Regions from separate parts of the Homo sapiens genome. Here region 2 is linked to region 1. Evidence: fine-mapped expression QTL. Tissue or cell type: whole blood. Region 1 holds a variant in brackets; the other region holds the start of a gene. All regions are shown on one strand. Distances are from middle to middle. Region 1 has its middle 24 kb from the start of NOLC1. Region 2 holds the start of CUEDC2 (CUE domain containing 2).

Region 1 (4,385 bases):
TTCAGACACGGGGCCCTTTGGTCCTTTCCACTGCTCTCTGCTGCCTTTCTCAAATGAAAAAGAGAAAATGAAAAGAAACTTTCTCCAACTTCCCAGGCCCCTTTGCTTTTTGTCCTGGAGTTGCTCTGGCCCGGGCAGGCTCACCATCATCACTCCTGGGGCTGCCTTTCTAGTCCCGCTCTCTGGAGACCTCTCCAGAAGCCTGGAGCTCAAGTGGGCTTGCAGATGCAAGGTCTGGGGTCCCTCTGTGGAGAACCTGGAAACACCTTCTCAGGGTCCACGGCCCCCACAGCCACTCTTTTCCCTTTTGTCTTGCAGGTTTTGTATTCCTCAGAGCCCTCTTTTTTCCATCTCTCTACTTTTCTCCTTCTACGTTTCTCCTCTCACCTCACCTGTCCCAAGGAAACACAGCATTCTTCTTTAAAACAACAACAACACTTTGTATGTGTGTGTGAAATACAGCAAACATAAACATGAAGCTTAATGGATAATTCTAAAGCACTACTCAATTCAAGAAAAAAATTTTTTAAAGTCCTGGTGTGGTGGCTCATGCCTATAATCCCAGCACTTTGGGAGGCAGAGGTGGGCAGATCTCTTGGACCCAGGAGTTTGAGACCAGGCTGGGCAACATGGTGAAATCCCATCTCTACTGACTGGATGGTGATACTCACTGGATGTTTAATGATACCAACTAATTACTATACTGATAATTCTTTTTTTTTTTTTGAGGCAGAGTCTCATTCTGTCGCCAGGCAGGAGTGCAGTGGTGCAATCTCAGCTCACTGCAACCTCCGCCTCCTGGGTTCAAGTGATTCTCCTGCCGAGTAGCTGGGACTACAGGCGCCTGCCACTGCGCCCGGCCTGATAATTCTTTTAAGTGTGAAAAGTAAAGCCTTTTTCCTTAAAGGCTTAACTTTAATTTTTTTGAGATGGAGTCTCACTCTTGTTGCCCAGCTTGGCATGCAGTGGTGAGATCTCGGCTCACTGCAACCTCCACCTCCCAAGTTCAGGCGGTTCTCCTGCCTCAGCCCCCCCGAGTAGCTTGGATTATAGGCATATGCCACCACGCCCGACTAATTTTGGTATTTTTTGGGGGGGGAGTTTAATTACATGATTGTAATTATACAATTTCCACTATTCGATATTTTGTATAAAACCAGTTACAACTCACAAGATTTTCAAATGTGACAATATGTATCAAACTACATATATATGCAAAGTTTACAGGCCATTAGGCAGCTTTATCCTAAAAATACCTTCAGGAAAATAAACATTCATTCAACCAGTTCTCTTGGCTTTAAAGAATATGATTAGAAATATACACTATAGGGGGTGGGCTCAGTGGCTTACGCCTGTTAGCACTTCGGGAGGCCGAGGTGGGCGGATCACGAGGTCAGGAGATCAAGACCATCCTGGCTAACACGGTGAAACCCCGTCTCTACTAAAAATACAAAAAATTAGCTGGGCGTGGTGGTGGGCGCCTGTAGTCCCAGCCACTCGGGAGGCTGAGGCAGGCGAATGGCGTGAACCCGGGAGGCAGAGCTTGCAGTGAGCCGAGATTGCACCACTGCACTCCAGCCAGGGC[A/G]ACAGGGCGAGACTCCGTCTCAAAAAAATAAAAAGAAAAAAGAAATATACACGGTAAAAAAAAGTCAAGATAATGATTGATCAATACTGATCAGTTACATTTTAAAACTTTTAATAATCTGTACATGAGTGCAGGTTAGATAAAAGTCAGCAAATTATTTATAGAAAACTGCAGTACTATCATCGGATGAACATGTCTGCTGACAATTCTACCAGGTAATTAAGGAGGTAATTTCCTACACAGTACAGGTGAATTGTCCAGTCTTTAAACATACCTGGAGTCATCTCCACTCAGTGACGTGGAGAATACCCTGATGTGGGGAAATGGAAGAGCAGCTGCTAGCCTCCCCAAGGCAGTTTCAGCGGGAGAGAACATTTAAAGGAACAATAAAATAGGTTTTAAAAGTTGCTTTTGGGCCGGGCGTGGCACTGCACTCCAGCCTGGGCGTCTGAGAGAGACTCCGTTTCTCAAAAAAAAAAAAAAAAAAAAGTTGCTTTTGATAAGCACTGCTTTCCAAAATGCAATAATGATTTTTTTTAATGTAGAAAGAGAAGCAGTGAGCTATGTTAAGAACATACATCCAATGAGTGCACTGTGGCTTGGACGGTGACTGGGAAAAAGACCCCAGGAGAGCCCTCGGGCCACACGCAAGCCCAGGCCATCCAGCCCAGGGAGCACACAGGCTTCGTGACAATGGTTGAGAACTCCTCTAAAACTTGCCTAGGCCCAAGAAAAGAGTGGTAGCAATCACCCCTGTGAGAGGGCTAGAGGGGAGGGGAAGAAGGAGGTGGGGGACAGGCTAAGGGCATCAAGCTCAGAACGGGGGAATTCTGGAGGCTGGCAGAGCTGCGTGTTGCCGGGAAGCACTGGCTACGCCAGGCCATTCCGCTCTTACGAGGCACCGCTCCCCACCAAGTTCTACAAAAAGCCACATCTGTCTGTACTTCCAGGAACCCACTTTTACAGACGTTCTTCCTTCGGACTGTCCCTGACTCTTGATAATTTTGAGTCCCCAGAAAGCTTCAAGGGCACCTAAAAATATTCACTTCTAATTTTAATTACATGGCAAACTGTCCCGGTGTACTTTCAGGGCTATTTAAGGCTCTTAAGTTAAGGGAATCTCTCCATCTGACACACACAGTTTCATGTTCCATAGCAACAAGGTCTTCTATAACAAGGACTCTTAAGTCAGAATCCCAGAAGATTCTGGGTGTTCGTGGTTTCAGTTGGAGGTGAGGGGAAGAGTCCACTCTCATTCAGAGCAGGAAGAACTGTTCATCCTTCAGATCCAGAGACTTCCTGGATTCTAGAGACGGCCCCCATAAGTGTAACACTGTTGCTATGCAAACCGTCCCATCATTTGGTTATTACAAGGAATGCTTCTTCACCAAATCACAAGTTTCCTATGACTAATTTCAGTGAGCCAGTTAAATAGAAGGATTTTTAGAAAGAGCCACAGTGGGCCGGGGGCGGAGGCTTACGCCTGTAATCCCAGCACTTTGGGAGGCCCAGGTGGGTGGATCACGAGGTCAGGAGATCGAGACCATCTTGGCTAACATGGTGAAACCCCGTTTCTACTTTGTATTTTGTAAAAATACAAAAAATTAGCCGGGCGCCGTGGCGGGCGCCTGTAGTCCCAGCTACTCGGGAGGCTGAGGCAGGAGAATAGCGTGAACCCGGGAAGCGGAGCTTGCAGTGAGCCGAGATCGCGCCACTGCACTCCAGCCTGGGCAACAGAGCAAGACTCCGTCTCAAAAAAAAAAAAAAGAAAAAGAAAAATAAAGAGCCACAGTGATAGCAATTCTACGTGGAAACTTGAGCAGGCAACATGAAGAGGCAGTTTATAAATGAAAAAGGACTGTGGTTCCGCTGACACCCTTCCTTTTCTTGGACGAAACACCAGGAGGCTTGTTCACCATGAGGGAGACAGTACCCACAAGAGCCGTGGGGCCCACATGTTTACTTGTTCTGATGGGATGAAAAATTAGCTGGGCATGGTGGTGTGCACCTGTAGTCCCAGCTACTCAGGAGGCTGAGATGGGAGGATCATTTGAGCCTGGCTGGAGGTTGCAGGCTTGGGGTTGCAGTGACCCCAGATTGCACCACTGCACTCCAGGGTGGGGAACAGAGTGAGACTGCTTAGAAAAAAAAAAAGTCTTGTTTTTGCTTCAGAATTATCCAATGGGAAGTGGGAAGGGGAATGAGTTGGGCTAATAAGAGATGAAATAAGATGGGCTGTGTATTGTTAAGAGCTGGATGGGAAGATGGGGCTTAATTATACTGTTCTTCCTACTTTGGTAAGTATGTGAAAATTTCCCTAATAAAATCCTTTTTAAAAACACACATACGGCCGGGCGCGCTGGCTCACACCTGTAATCCCAGCACTTTGGGAGGCCGAAGCAAGCGGATCACGAGGTCAGGAGATCGAGACCATCCTGGCTAACATGGGGAAACCTCGTCTCTACTGAAAGTACAAAAAATGAGCCGGGCGTGGTGGCGGGGGCCTGTAGTCCCAGCTACTCGGGAGGCTGAGGCAGGAGAATGGTGTGAACCCGGGAGGCGGAGCTTGCCGTGAGCCGAGATGGCACCACTGCACTCCAGCCTGGGCGACAGAGCAAGATTCCATCTCAAAAAAAAAAAAAAAAGAAAAGAAAAGAAAAGAAAAAAACACACATACACAACTGGGGACAGTAGCTCATGCCTGTAACCACAGCACTTTGGGACGCCAAGACAGGAGAATCACTTGAGGCCAGGAGTTTCAGACCAGCCTGGGCAACATAGTGAGACCTTGTTTCTAGGG
Region 2 (4,385 bases), 260 kb before region 1:
GTGAGGACCAGAGGTGGAAGAGAAAGCAATAAGCAGTCATCCCGTTTTCTCCATAGTTTCTTCTTCTTCCTTCTCCTTCTTTTCTTCTTCTTTTTTTTTTTTTTTTTTTTTTTTGAGACAGGGTCTTGCTTTGTCACTCAGGCTGGAGTGCAGTAGCACAATCACGGCTTACTGCAGCCTTGACCTCTGGGGCTCAAATGATCCTCCCACCTCAGTCTCTGGAGTAGCTGGGACTACTGGCGTGTGTCACCATGCCCAGATAATTTTTTATTTTTTAAATTTTTTGTAGAGACGAGGTTTTGCCATGTTGCCCAGGCTGGTCTCAAATTCCTGGGCTCAAGCGATCCTCCCACCTCAGCCTTGCAAAGTGCTAGAATTACAGGTGTGAGCCACTGCAGCATAGTATCTTGGCACTGCCTTAGTCCCTAGGAGAGAGGAAAGATGGGACTTCTCTCTTGGACTGTGAGCTCCCTGAGGGCAGGGACAGCTTCCGGGTCCCCAGCACCCCACGAAGGAACTAGCACTAAAAAGGGCTCATCCCTGCTGATGGGGGATGGGAAATTTTATCCTTGAAGGGGACTCTTCCCCTTGTGACCCATTTCAGGGTTCCCAAGAGGGGAGGGCTGTGGGGCTTCCCCACAGGGCAGCACCGGGAATCTGTGGCAGCAGGAACAAAAAGAGGAAGTTGAAGTCTTGTTGGGCCCTGGAGTTCAGCTCTCCTGTCCTAGACAAGCAGCCCTGCCAACATGGGGGATGAAGGCCCCGGGGGGTAGGCATGGTCTACAGGCTGTCCATGACAGGGCTCAGGTGGATCCTCATCCTGGCACCTGCTACCACTCCACCTCTCCCAGACCACGTCCAAAATCCCAGGCTCCACCCTCCGGAGACACAGACCTGTAGCTCACCCCAATCTAGGGGAGACATTGCTGTTAAGGGAATGCAAAAGGTACAGACAGGGTGGGGAAGTCAGTACCTAAGAGACCAGCCTGGGCCACGTGGCAAAAACCCTGTCTCTACAAAAAAAAAAAAAAAAAAAAAAATTAGCTCGGCGTGGTGGCACGCGCCTGTGGTTCCAGCTACTCCAGAGGCTGAGATGGGAGGATCACTTGAACCCAGGAGGTCGGGGCTGCAGTGAGCCATGTTCGCACTCGTGAACCTGCACTCCAGCCTGGGGCTGTAACAGCAAGAAAAGAAGAAAAAGAAAGAGAAGGAAGGAAGGGAGGGAGGGAAAGAAAGGAAAATAAAGAAAGAAGAAAAGAAAAGAGGCCAGGCGCGGTGGCTCATGCCTGTAATCCCAGCACTTTGGGAGGCCGAGGCAGGCGAATCACGAGGTCAGGAGTTTGAGACCAGCCTGGCCAACATGGTGAAACCCCGTTTCTACTAAAAATACAATAAATTATCTGGGCGTGGTGGCGCGCGCCTGTAATCCCAGCTACTCGGGAGGCTGAGGCAGGAGAATCTCTTGAACCCGGGAGGCGGAGGTTGCAGTGAGCCGAGATCGCGCCACTGCACTCCAGCCCGGGAGACAGTGCGAGGCTCCCTCCCAAAAAAAAAAAAGAAGAAGAAAAGGAAAAAAAAGTGAGAGAGAGAGAGAGAGAGAGACGAGAAAAAGAGAGAGAGAAAGAAAGAGAAAGGTTTCGGGTCTCTGACGGATGAGAAGGAACAAGACGGGGATGCAGTCCTACCCACTTCGACTCCACCCCCTCTCAAGACCTTCACGCCTAACGCCTCCCTACGCGCAACAAAACTGGCCGCCAAGGGAGCCCGTCCATAGCCCTGGGACGTTAGAGAATTAGAGCAGGAGCTCCGCCCTGTTGTGGGCAACTTGCCCTTCTCAAACATGGCCGCCACGGCGCCTCTGGAAGGGAACCGCTCTGGGCCCCGCCTTTGATCTCGTTGGTGGGGCTGGGGGATGAGAGCTGCACCGCGCGGGACAAGTCGCCGGCGGCGCCCGACGGAGCAGGTGATTTCCCCTCCTGCCCCCGGCCCAGGGCTAGGAGAGTCGCGGAGAGCGCTGACCCAGGGTACCCGTCCGATGTGTTCCCCCACGGTACCCCCCCCGGGGCCCGTCGGACCCCCATCTCTGATTCTCGCCGTGGCCTGTATCAAGGCACATCCAGTTTGCTCAGGCCTGCCTCGTCATGTGTCCTCCAAGGCCACAGCCGCATCCCTGTGCCTTCGGGCCCACTATTCTGGACGCTTACGGGTGTCCCGCTAGCGGGTTTAGGGAGCTGCTGCTTCAGGGGTCGTCCATCATCGCGGTCCCACTTCCTGTGCTCGCCCTCCCTGTTTGTGCTCCCGCCTGACTTTGGATGCAGGGATCCCTTGTTCCCCTCAATGCCCTTGGTGCCTCTAAGGTCTGACTTGGGTATCAGAGGACAATGATATCCTCTGGGGCCTGCGTTATGGGTCCAGGGCCTCAGGAACCGGGCTTCACAGGGGCTGGGAGAAGCAGTGAAGACCTTCCATGCTAGACCCCTTGCTGCCTCCCTGAGAAGTTCGCTAGGACTCCTTTCACACTAGCTCCCAGGATTCCTCCTCCCACATGGCCTGCTCTCCCTCCACTTTAAGCACCTCCCCACCCCAAGGGAGCAGCATAGTACTTCTTACCCCACTCTCACTTAAATTTGTCCACAGTGTCTCTATCTAGCATCTGGAGGGTCCAGGCCTGTGCTGCCCTTGGGAAGCTCCCAGGCTAGCTGGGAGCAGTGAAGGTGGGGCAGTTAGGGTTGGCTGCAGAAAGGGAGTCCTGCAGAATGAGATTTGGAGAGGCAGAGGGACAGATGCTCTGGGCTGGGAGAGTGGTGTGAGCAAAGATTCTGAAATAGACAATATAGCCAGCCAGGCAGGAGAGGAGATTCAGAATATAGGATGGGGCCACACAATTTGCATCGTGAGAGGTGATGTAGTGTGGTGGTTAACAGTGAGGGTTCTGGATCCAGACAGCCTGGGTGTAAATCTGCCATTAACTTGCCTTGTGACCTTGGGCAAGTTACTTAACCTCATAGTGCCTTCATTTCCTTTCAGGTAAAATGTGGATAATACGGCCGGGCGCGGTGGTTCATGCCTGTAATCCCAGCACTTTGGGAGACCGAGGCGGGTGGATTGCCTGAGGTCAGGAGTTCGAGACCAGTCTGGCCAACATGGTGAAACCCCGTCTCTACTAAAAAATACAAAATAAATTTGCCAGGCATGGTGGCATGCGACTGTAATCCCAGCTACTCAGGAGGCTGAGGCAGGGGAATTGCTTGAACCAGGGAGGTGGAGGTTGCAGTGAGCTGAGATCGCACCACTGCACTCCAGCCTGGATGGCAGAGCGAGACTCCGTCTCAAAAATACATAAATAAATAAAATAAATAAAATAAAATGGGGAGAATAACAGTATCTACATTTTAGAGTTATTGTAAGGATTAGGTAAGTTAATACATGTAAAAGTGCTTAGGACAATGCCTCGTAAGCAGAGGCAATAAATGCTAATATTACCATCATCGGAGGCATTTAGGCAGGACTCATGACAGGATGACAGTCACATTTGGTAGACACCATCAACCAATGATCTCTAATTTGCGGCCCCCAAGAAGCAATGGGGTTCTGTGGGCTACATCTGGAATTTGAAATGTCTCATGGAAATCATGTTCTTACCCTGGAGAAGGGTGGCTGCTTAGGTGCTACTTAGGAAACCAGTCTGGCAGACCAGATCTTCCCCAACTCAGGGGCTATGCGGGGAGAAGTATTAGGAGCCCCTGAGCAGGAAGGATGTACTTAGGAAGGCTACCGGGGATGGGGAAGGGTAAAAGAGCTTAGAAGCCTGGGTGAAGTTTGGGTAGACCAAAAACAGGAGGAGGGAGGGAGGATGTTCCCTTGGAATACAAACTAGAGAAAAGCTTAGGGGAGCAAGTCTTTTTATTTGGGGACAGTGAAGAGTTTCCTAAAAATTCCCTGGCCCCCAGGCCTTGGCTAAAAACCCAGAAGCATGAGACACATCCCTGAGAAGCTTCTTCCCTAGAAACTGGGCTCTCAGGCCGGGCACGGTGGCTCACGCCTATAATCCCAGCACTTTGGGAGGCCTAGGCGGGCAGATCACCTGAGGTCGGGAGTTCGAGACCAGCCTGACCAACATGGAGAAACCCTGTCTCTACTAAAAATACAAAATTAGCCGAGCATGGTGGCACATGCTTGTAATCCCAGCTACTCAGGAGGGCTGAGGCAGGAGAATCGCTTGAACCCAGGAGGTGGAGGTTGCGGTGAGCCAAGATCGCGCCATTGCACTCTAGCCTGGGCAACAAGAGTGAAACTCTGTCTCAAAAGTAAAATAAATAAATAAATAAATAAATAAATAAAATTAAAAAAAAAAAAAGAAAACCTGGGCTTTCAGCCAAGTTTCA

The links. PIP is the estimated chance that this variant, and not a neighbour inherited with it, causes the effect.
Region 2: CUEDC2 starts here. The variant in region 1 is the best candidate, but not a certain one, in a credible set for the expression of CUEDC2 in whole blood (INTERVAL, PIP 0.81).

The regions. Positions count from the first base shown.
Region 1 is chr10:102,174,068-102,178,452 of GRCh38, reverse strand. No RefSeq gene overlaps it. Among named protein-coding and RNA genes, the nearest start is that of NOLC1, 24 kb to the right of the region's middle. The variant A/G (reference allele first, on the strand shown) is at 1,586.
Region 2 is chr10:102,430,104-102,434,488 of GRCh38, reverse strand. CUEDC2 (CUE domain containing 2) reads left to right here and starts at 1,915. Exons shown (of 9, transcript NM_024040.3): 1 at 1,915-1,963. RefSeq lists enhancers at 280-913, 914-1,549, 1,481-1,650, 1,821-1,950.